Regions from separate parts of the Homo sapiens genome. Here region 2 is linked to region 1. Evidence: fine-mapped expression QTL. Tissue or cell type: blood mononuclear cells. Region 1 holds a variant in brackets; the other region holds the start of a gene. All regions are shown on one strand. Distances are between the middles of the regions.

Region 1 (5,153 bases):
AACTTAGAAGCTATACTTCGATAAATTTTAATAATTAGTTGGCTCTTCTTAGGTGAAGAACATCCATAAAGAGGAGGTGTTCTATTTCCCTTCATGGTGGTACTTTATATTAGGTAATAAAAAATGATTTTAAAACAAAACCAAACATTAGAAAACATGCTCCTATCTAAAAAATAATAATGAAAAAAAAAAGCAACAAAAATCATGCTCCCTCCACCAAAAAAAACTCACCAATATACTAACACATTCTAAAGCACTACTGAAGTAAACAAGGAAGCACAGGACAGGAGTCTGTTTAAAGAGTGCCTGAATACAGGACTCCTGCTTTTACTTTTTTTTTTTGAGATGGAGTTTTTCGCTCTTGTCCCCCACTCTGGAGTGCAACAGTGCAATATCGGCTCACTGCAACCTCTGCCTCCCGGGTTTGAGCAATTCTCCTGCCTCAGCCACCGGAGTAGCTGGGATTACAGGCACATGCCATCATGCCTGACTAATTTTTGTATTTTTAGTAGAGACAAGGTTTCACCATGTTGAGCAGGCTGGTGTCAAACTCCTGACCTCAAGTGATCCGCCTACCTAGGCCTCCCAAAGTGCTAGGATTACAGGCGTGAGCCACCGCAATCCACTAGGATGACTTTTTTAAAAAGAAATCACTAAGTACTTTTAAAGTTTATACAACTTAGTAACAAACTATCTAAACTTTTAAAAGAAATTTAACAGCTATCACTGAATTAATTCTCCTACAACTAAGCTAAGTTTATTTGTTAAAAAGCACACTCAAGAAATACATCTTGAATACCTAGTATATAACAGGGATAAAGCTGTGAACAAAACAGGTAAGAATCACTCTTCACATGGAGTTTTACATTCTAGTGGGAAAAGAAATTCCACTGTAATGGCTTTCAGAAGTTCCAAAGACAAGATCAGCAAATCAACCAAGCACACGGAAAGACCATACATTTAACAGTACCTTTCTAAAAGGACTAAAATTTGGGAAGCATGACAGACTTGCCTTACAGCTAATGGGGTAGCTGGCTCAACCTTCGGCTTTTGCTTTTGGACAGCTTCTTCTTCGTGCTTACTTTTCCAACCAAGCCAACCACTGAAAAGAAAGAAAACTTAGAATATAAAACTGAGCTTCCAGGGTTTTAAAGTGCAAACTATCAAAATATAAGTTAAAAGCAAGCTAGATACAAATGAGATATTTGTTATTTTAATTGTTAAGTAATTACCTGGCAGCATTAAATAAAGCAGAAGTGAGTTTACTTGCAACTGCTAGTGCAACATGGGATAATAATGGTTGTGTGCTTCCCTGAAAAACAGAACATTTGAAAGAGAAAACTTAGTAGCTTACAAAGAAACAAACATACTTTCTAAATAAAGCTTACTTTAAAATGCTTTGAAAAGTTGTAAAGGCTGGACTAGCAACTCAGCTTCTTTCAGAGTACAGTAAAAAGTTTATTTTAGGCGTAATATGAGAAAAAGTTTTAACTCTATAGTTTAAAAATAAAATCACAATTAGTCTATTTTACCATTAGAATTTCTCTCTTTAAATTGTAATTTCATTCAAATAAATTTTAAACTAGGACATTAAGATTACATTATTCTAGCTGGACTATGGATTTCACACCTACACATAACTGGCTCCTTTCTCTCTTTAAATATATATATATGCACACACATATACACACACACATTTTTATAAAAGTAAAAAGATATTTTGGACAATTCTGAGAAGCATGCTTTTTAAGTGAGAAACAAGAGCTGCCAAATCTAACACTCAACTTTCCACTATTTTAGGAAGCAATTTTCACCACTTATAACAAGTATAGTTGGCAGCTTGTTCTGTCTTTACAACTCCTCATTTACTCAAATCCCTAGTGGGCTGGCATCATTAACAAGCCTGAGCTCCTGACTATTGCACCAATATTTAAAGACATCTCAGCTATCAAAGAACTCAGGGCTTCAGAAACAAAGAATTTCCTTTTATACTGATGGTAGTACCTTTTCAGTTAATCTAAAGAATTTAGAAGAAAGCTAGTTGAGATTAATTTTAGTTTCAATTGAAATTTAGAAATGTAAACTGCTTAATCTTCTAAGGCTAAGCAAGTTACCATATCCAATTTGTAGACAAATTGTAAAATCAAGAGCAGCCTTACTCATGATCATTGATAAAACTCATACCTCTAAAGCATAGAAGAAGCCAGTAAATGGATTGGACCCTACAGTGATATACTGAGACATGGCAGGTGGACTATTTTTAATTGCTGCATTAAATCCACCTATATTGGAGGCAGTCTTCATTTGATCAAAGGGGGACAGAGTCATAATACCTAA[TA/T]AAAAAAAAAAAGTGATTTGAATGTACAATGTTATTGCGGTCATTACATTTTTACTTCAGTTCCATTCTAAGATGCTAAATGTTTAGTTTTATTTAATAACCAAAAGTCATTTTAAAAGCTACAAAGTCAACATCAGAAAATATTCTGCCAGGCATGGTGGCTCACTCCTATAATCCCAGCACTCCGGAGGCCAAGGCAGTTGGATCACTTGAGGTCAAGAGTTTGAAATCAGCCTGGCCAACATGGTGAAACCCCGCCTCTACTAAATATACAAAAATTAGCCATGCATGGTGGTGGGTGCCTGTAATCTTAGCTACTTGGGAGGCTGGGGCAGGAGAATTGCTTGAACCTGGGAGGTGGAGGTTGCAGTAAGCTGAGGTCACACCAACTGCACTCCAGCCTGGGCAACAGGGCGAGACCCCATCTCAAAAAAATAATAATAATAAATATTAAAATTTCCATCTATAATTTCCATAATCTATAGAATATCATAAAAACAAAATTTAATTTTTTGAACAGATATGAAACTCAGAGGTACCAGAAGTATACAGTCCACTTATATCCCCAAATACCAATTCACTTCTTTTTTTTTTAGTTTTTGAGATGGCGTCTCACCCTGTCGCCCAGGCTGGAGTGCAATGGTGCAATCTCAGCTCACTGCAACCTCTGCCTCCCAGGTTCAAGCGATTCTCTTGCCTCAGCCTCCCCGAATGGCTGGGATTACAGACGCGCACCACCATGCCCAGCTAATTTTTGTATTTTTAGTAGAGACGAAGTTTTGCCATGTTGGCCAGGCTGGTCTCAAACTCCTGACCTCAGGTGATCCTCCAGCCTCAGCCTCCCAAAGTGTTGGGATTACCGGTGTGAGCCACTGTGCCCAGCCAATATAGGCGTGTGCTGCTGTGCCTGACCTTACTAAATTTCATATACATATATTTCAGGCCTCCCCTTTGCCTGAAAACTGTCAAAAAATGCATTCGTCCTTAAGACGTGTCCTAGGAAAGGAAATTCTTTGAGTGAGTTCATACGCAAGCCATTCACTGGCTTTATAGGAATTAAAGTGATCAAACAAATCCTTGGACTATTTTTTAAACTCCCCTCCCACCTCCTAGACCATTATAAAAGATCAGAACACCTATCTCATAGTCATGAATGAATCCATGATTCAGTATACAAAATGTTTTCACTACATTACAAAATTTGCTTAAGTTTTGCCTGACTCCACCAAAACACGATCAAAGGGCAAACTATATGGCACATAAATTGAAATTTAAGTTTTAAAACAGCTTCTTTTTAAACTCCCATGCAATATACATGGGAGTATAAATTACTACACAGTAATCCAGAGGACAATTTTGCAATAGATATGCAATTTTTTTAAAGGATTCTAATTTATTGTAAGGAAATGGCTGATCAATCCTTTCCATCCTTGCTACCAATGATGTTTTCCTTCCTATAACTTAAATCATCTATTTTCAATGTCACACTTTAGATCCTGTCATCAGCAACTGTAGATTCTTTGTATTTTTGATTTCAAGCTTACCACACTTAGACCACCACCTCCTAGCTTTCCATCTCAATTACTCCAGAAACTCCCTGCAGTAATTTCACAATTTCGAGTTTAAACTAATTAATCCTACTATTTTTTCCACTATTTATCAAGTACCTCTTGGGATCACTTCCCTTTCCATCCAGCTTAGCTTTGTGTTCCATCATCATCACTTTCTTGCAAATATCCACAACCTCCCTACACTCGTTTCCCCCTACACACATACTCCTCTGGCTAAATCTTAATCTTGGTTGACCTAAACTTTCTGCATTCTCTGCTCTTGAAGCAAAATAGCTGATCATTGCTAAGAAAAACAATACCTCTGGGTTTCAAAGTAAGAACCACAAACAAATGGACATAAAGCTTGGTCCAAAATCCTTCTGACCTCCTCAACCCTTCCTTCCCATCCTCGATCCTTTGAAATCTATTTGTTGAAGCAACAAGGCTGTTTGAGACTAATTTCCCACAGTCTACAGCTGACCACATTCCTATAGTATTATTTAAAGTGTTTTTCTGCCCTTTATATTGCTACACATTGGTACTGAATTTAGGGGGCTTTTATCTTTCGAGTCACTGATTTTAGCACTATTTTTCATTAACTTAAGGTGGTATGGCTTATTTACATCTCTCTTTCTCGCCCTATATCCTTCCAAAATATTTGTATCTCAACGTTTTATTAAATTCACTGTTTTTATTATTAGGAATGATATAAGCATTACTCACTGCTGAGACATGCTACTTACTGTAATTACATTTCCTTGGCTGTGCATTCTTTTTTTTCTGGAGTTATTATTACCTTGTCATTTAGAATTTTCCCTGAGCGTCTGAGGCCTTCCCACACTTTGAAAGACATCAAAGTCCCTCTCAATATAAGTTTCCATAAAGTCAAACTCATTGGATAATTTTCTAGGCCTAGTAGAGTGACTAATGAAGGCCTCTTTGACAATGTGATATATAAGGAGACCTGAGTGAAGAGAGGGAGAAAGCCATGTGACTAGCTAAAGTTTTCCAGGCAGAGGGAGCAGTAATTCTAAATGCTCTAGAGTAGGAATATGCTTGCTGTGTCTGAGGAACACAAAGGAGATCTACATGATGAAACACAATGAACAGGGAGGGGAACCCTACAGGAGACAGTGTCAGAGGTACCATAAGCCAGATAAAGTTGGGCCTTGTATGTCACGGTAAGGAGCAACCAGAAGAAGAAAGATGATGTAGAAAAAAAAAGGAGGAGCAAGTTTGACAGGAGGAAATTACTCGATTTTGGA
Region 2 (5,153 bases), 75 kb after region 1:
AGCACTTTGGGAGGCCAAGGCAGGTGGATCGCAAGGTCAGGAGTTCAAGACCAGCCTGGCCAACATAGTGAAACCCCATCTCTACTAAAAATACAAACATTAGCCGGGCATGGTGGCGCATGCCTGTAGTCCCAGCTACTCAGGAGGCTGAGGCAGAAGAATTACTTGAACCCAGGAGGTGGAGGTTGTAGTAAGCTGAGATCATGCCACTGCACTCCAGCTTGGGCAACAGAGTGAGACTTCATCTCAAAAAAAAAGGCAATGTTGTGATCTAAATTATGCCTTAAAAGCTCACTGTAACTACTGTTGAGAATTATTACAGGAAACCAAGAGCAAAAGCAGGAAGAATTGCTAGAAGAAGACACATATCATATCATAGCCCAGGTTGAGAAAAGATGGTGGCCTGGACCAGGAGAGTGGTAGAAGGATAAAGAAAATCTGTTCCTTTTTTCTACATTCCCTATCTACAATCCTGCATCTGCTATCCTTCACAGCCAAGCTCCTTGAAATAGTATATTTCACTTTTTAACCCCTTATCCTATAACTATGCTTTCTGCCTCCACTATCCTACTGAAACTGTCCTAAGGTCCAAGTTACCTCCACCTTCTCAAAACCAATAAGCATTTTTCTATCCTTTTCTTACCTGACCCCTGCTGCATTTGCAAAACTGCTGACCATTCCTCACCCTCATCAAGTTCTCGCCTTCCTCAGCTCCGAGGGCCTTACTCTCACATGATTTTCCTCTTTCTTTTACTCCTTCTCAGTCTTCTTCCCAGTAACCTCTACTTGACTTTTAAACACCAGTGCTCCTCTAAGCTTACAGCTTTAGTACTCAGTGCATTTCACAACATACATAATCCTTGAGACTGAACTGACACTTTTTGCTGTTAGCTCCCCAATTAACATCTCTGGCCCAGTACTCCCTACTGTTTAGACTATCTATATCTGGTGTTCAACCAGATGTCCTTACTTGGACATACCATAAACATTTAAAATGCAAAAGGTTGAAAATCTGTATCCTTCATTCTCTTATTACATATAGTTGCCCAAACCACAAGCCAAAGACTTCCTAAACTCCCCCTCACTTACTAGTTACAATGCCCATCACCAGACCTTCACAAGGTCCTGCAGATTCTAACTCCTTAACGTCTTTCTAATCTAGTCCTTCATCTTCATCCTACTAAGGTTCTTAATTCAAGCTCACATAATTTCTTGCTTGGATTACTGGAAGAGCTTCCCAATCCATTTCCCTTCTTCCAATCTCTCCTCCACTTTGCTACCAGAGCACATTACAGGTCTTCAACAAATGTTGTTGATTACATTAAGTACAAATCTGACAATGTCATTTCTCTACTTAAACTTTCAGAGAAACGCCACAATTTTCACAAGGCCTCTCATGGTCTAGCTCCTTATTACTACTACTGCCTCATTGCCCCAACTCTTCCTCTCCCATCCTCCTCTCCAGCCATTCAGCTTTTCTTAGTTCTCTAAATACCATGCCATTTCAGGCCTCCCTTCCTCTGCACATGCTATTACTGCTCCTTTACTCCTCTAACTAGTACTTCAAAGGTAGGCTTAAGTATCACCACTTCAAGAAAATGCCTCATGTATATCTCAGTCACACTGAATGGAAGTTAATGATTTGTCTGTAAACCAGAAGTTCCTACAGCAGGGTCCACCAACCTTATTTGGTTTGTAGCACCAATGACTGGCACAAAGTATGCAATCATTCACAGATGGGTTCGATTTGATATCTTCTAAATTTTCTAAAAAAGGGAGAGGAGCTTAGTGGGCTTTATATCACCATTCCGGTATAGCACAAAGTGAGAGCGCTGTACTACAAAGCCAAATGTGCTTCAGGTTGGAAATGCAAAAATAAAATAAAATAAAATAAAATAAAATAAAACACAAGGCACACCCTTTCAAAATGAAATGTACGAAATTCTGAAAGCCTATATAGTATCTAATAAACCAGCCTTGGAACTTTATACTACTTGGGGAAAGGCTTATTAAACACTTTGATGATAAAAATAGGTGGAAGGCTTCAATAAAGCAAATTAACCTTTCTTGGCTATGTCACTGTAATTTTAGTTCCTAATGTAGATTCTCGTTCACTTCCTGACAGGTTATTTTCCTTCTTTGAGAGAGTCTTACCTCAAGAGTCACTCATTTGTCAGCCATTTGTTCTCAAAATCTGAATGGGGGAAATGCAGATGAAAGAAGGGAGAGTGTGGGGGGATGATCAACACTTTCGGAATGGGAGGTAGCAGAAGGCCACAGTCTCCGGGATGGAAGAGAGTGGGAGCTGGGGCAATACCAGAGTGGAGCGCTGACATGTGGCAAGGAACGGGGAGGATGCGATCACGGAGCAGGCAACATGAAACAGGGAACGACCCCAGGCTGAAGATGGGAGACGGAGAAGATACTCAGAGAGAAAGCTAGGAATGTGTGGGGGTGGGGGGAGGGAGGGAGAAAGCGGTGATAGGCAGAGGCGAGAGGAAACAAGACGCAGTTTTTAGCCAGGGGTCAGAGGGCCTAAGGAGAAAAGCTGGGTCGAGAGGAAGACAACACAAATGGGGCTTCAGGACGAGGTGGGCAGGGTGTCATCCCGGAGCGGAGGGGAGGCACGGGGAGAACTGGGGGTCCAGAGGGCAGAGGCAGGAGGCGCAGAGCGAGTAGGAGACTCGAACCCGTGAGCAGAGGCCGCGGGTGACGAGGGAAGGAAGGGCGAGGCCAGAGAGGCACTTACTGGGGTCCCTCCGCAAGGCGCCGCTGAGGATCTCCTCCCGCAGGTGAGGAAAGAGGAAGTCCCGGGCGGCCTGGAGGTCCTGGAAGTAGCAGAACTGGACAATGGAGCAGGCCATGGCTCCAGGGAACCCCACTACGGCACTCACCTTACCTCACCACGCCCTGCCCCCTCCACCCCACTGCGGCCGCCACCGAGCCCCAATAGCTCTAGCCAAGCAGAAGGCGGAGAAACCAAACCGGAAGCTGTCACTGACACGGGTCCGCTGTCTCCGAGTACTGCGCAGGCGCAGGCTGGCCCAGGCGCCTAGGGCGCGGGGGCCCGGGTCACGTGACTACGGCGCCGCCGCTGCAGGTGGAGCCAAAGTCGACGTGGAGGCTTGGGGCAGATTTTTCAGTCCCAGTTGTGTGTCTACGCCGAGGCATGAACCCTTTCATTCATTCTGGCTTTTAGCCAGAGGTGTTCTAATTGGACTTGTCCGCGCAGCCCTTTGACTTATTCAGTCTTATTGGTCCCCTACTATTGGCACGATCCTGATGTTTCACAGAAACTAATTCGTTTTAAACTAGTGGCAGGCCAGTGGGGGACCGTATCCTGCAAGAGTCGGATTTTGAAAAGATTAATTGCTCTTCCGGAGATTAGCCCCGTCAAGGCTGGCTTTAAATGCTCCTACTATAGATTCCCATAGTACTACGCAAGCCCAATATAGTACGTGTTATAGTGTATTATACACTTTTGTTTTCATTATTCATTTGGTTTTTCATTCATGCATTCATCCATCCATTCAACAAATATTTGTTAGTCTTTTAAATGCCAGCCACGCAGGGTGCTGAGCATTAGAGAACAAAAGAGAAGAAGTACCTTTTCCCAGAAAGCTGGAATTCTAGTGACTGATACAGGCAGTAAGCAATTAATTACAGTATTTCCCTTTAATCCAAGGGGATATGTTTTAAGATCCCCAGTGGATGACTCAAACCATGGATAGTACTGAAACCTATGTATGTGTATTATGTTTTTACCTATACATATATATGATAAAGTTAAATTTATAAATTAGGCACAGTGAAAGATTAACAATAACTAATAATTAAATTGAATAATTATGTGGAAAATGAACCCATGGATAAAGGGGGGACTACTGTACTTAACTATTTAACTGAAATTGTGATCATGCTAGTAAGTGCTTCATAAATATTTGCTGAAGAAATAAATGGAATGCATACATAAAGTAAATAGAATAACTTGTTTCTTTGACAAAGCACTATTTTTGAAAGTACTTTACATTGTTCATTTGGATAGTCACAAATGCCATCTAAAAATAGTGTGTCTTATCCCATTTTTAAAATAAAGAAATTGAGCTGTCTCTGAGCAGACTTTAAGTTATTTTTCCAAAAAATAAAAACAAAAAAAATTATTTTAATGTGAGCACAAAGGCCTGTAGGCACTTACACATTTCCTAAAGGAAACCTAAAGAGGCCATCCACTTTGTATGAAAAAAGGGCACAGGAACAAATGAAAGGCAAGTGGATGGGGTCCAGAGCATTCATTTCTGTCAGGCCCGTGGACATACACACTTAGTCCTAATAATATAACAACTATAATTTAGTGCCCAGGTTCCTACTCCATTATTTCCTACTTCTAGAGTAGGATGATTTTCACAAAATAGGATAGGCAATTTCTATGTTATCAGGTTAACAGGAATCAGTTCTTCACCTATAAAAGGCAGTTGAATCAGATGTGCTGTAAGGTCCCTTTAAGCATCAGGGACCTATACTTCTGTAATCAAAGCTTTCAGAAAAAGCAAGCTGCCAGTGCTCCCTTCTTCCATCTGAAGAAATGCAGTGTTTCCTCAGATCATCACTAACTAGAATAATCCAGCCCTGATAAGATTATTCCCTAAAATCCAGCACCAATCCCAAACTAAACCAAAATTTAAATTTAGATTCTTAGTGTTACTGGACGAATAACAAACACATGACACTTTCTGGAAGGAGACTGTCATTCCTTGAAAACCATTCAAGTTCCTATTCAGGTAAATGCATTTTGTGGAAGTAACTGCTGTTGGCTGATTTTGCTGGCCTTTGTTCTTCCCTGAGGCATTCATATGTCTCCTGTGGTGGTCATTGAATTTCATTACTGTGTTGGCTCAGTTTTAATGGTGAAGTCCCTGACTTCCTTCCAAGTACTGTTGAAAAGGATCATTCATGGATGTTTTTAAGGACTTTAGATACCCTTCACAGAAATTACAACACATTCATGAACTGAACTCTTCCCCCAGGAAGTTGTAATGCAACAGGGGGGGATGCCTCTGGAGTTCTGCTACCATGGTTTCTGCGGCATGTGGGAGGATTGCATCAGACAGTGAATATCACTTATTCCACAGTCATAAGAAAGCACATTGCAAAAA

Evidence for each region. PIP is the estimated chance that this variant, and not a neighbour inherited with it, causes the effect.
Region 2: it holds the start of RAB3GAP2, and the variant in region 1 is fine-mapped to the expression of RAB3GAP2 in blood mononuclear cells (TOPMed, PIP 0.97).

What each region holds. Positions count from the first base shown.
Region 1 is chr1:220,194,066-220,199,218 of GRCh38, forward strand. RAB3GAP2 (RAB3 GTPase activating non-catalytic protein subunit 2) reads right to left here. Exons shown (of 35, transcript NM_012414.4): 10 at 2,185-2,333; 11 at 1,233-1,312; 12 at 1,013-1,102. Among named protein-coding and RNA genes, the nearest start is that of MIR664A, 4.0 kb to the right of the region's middle. The variant TA/T (reference allele first, on the strand shown) is at 2,338.
Region 2 is chr1:220,269,474-220,274,626 of GRCh38, forward strand. RAB3GAP2 (RAB3 GTPase activating non-catalytic protein subunit 2) reads right to left here and starts at 2,980. Exons shown (of 35, transcript NM_012414.4): 1 at 2,750-2,980. The coding sequence starts at 2,864. RefSeq lists an enhancer at 1,074-1,575.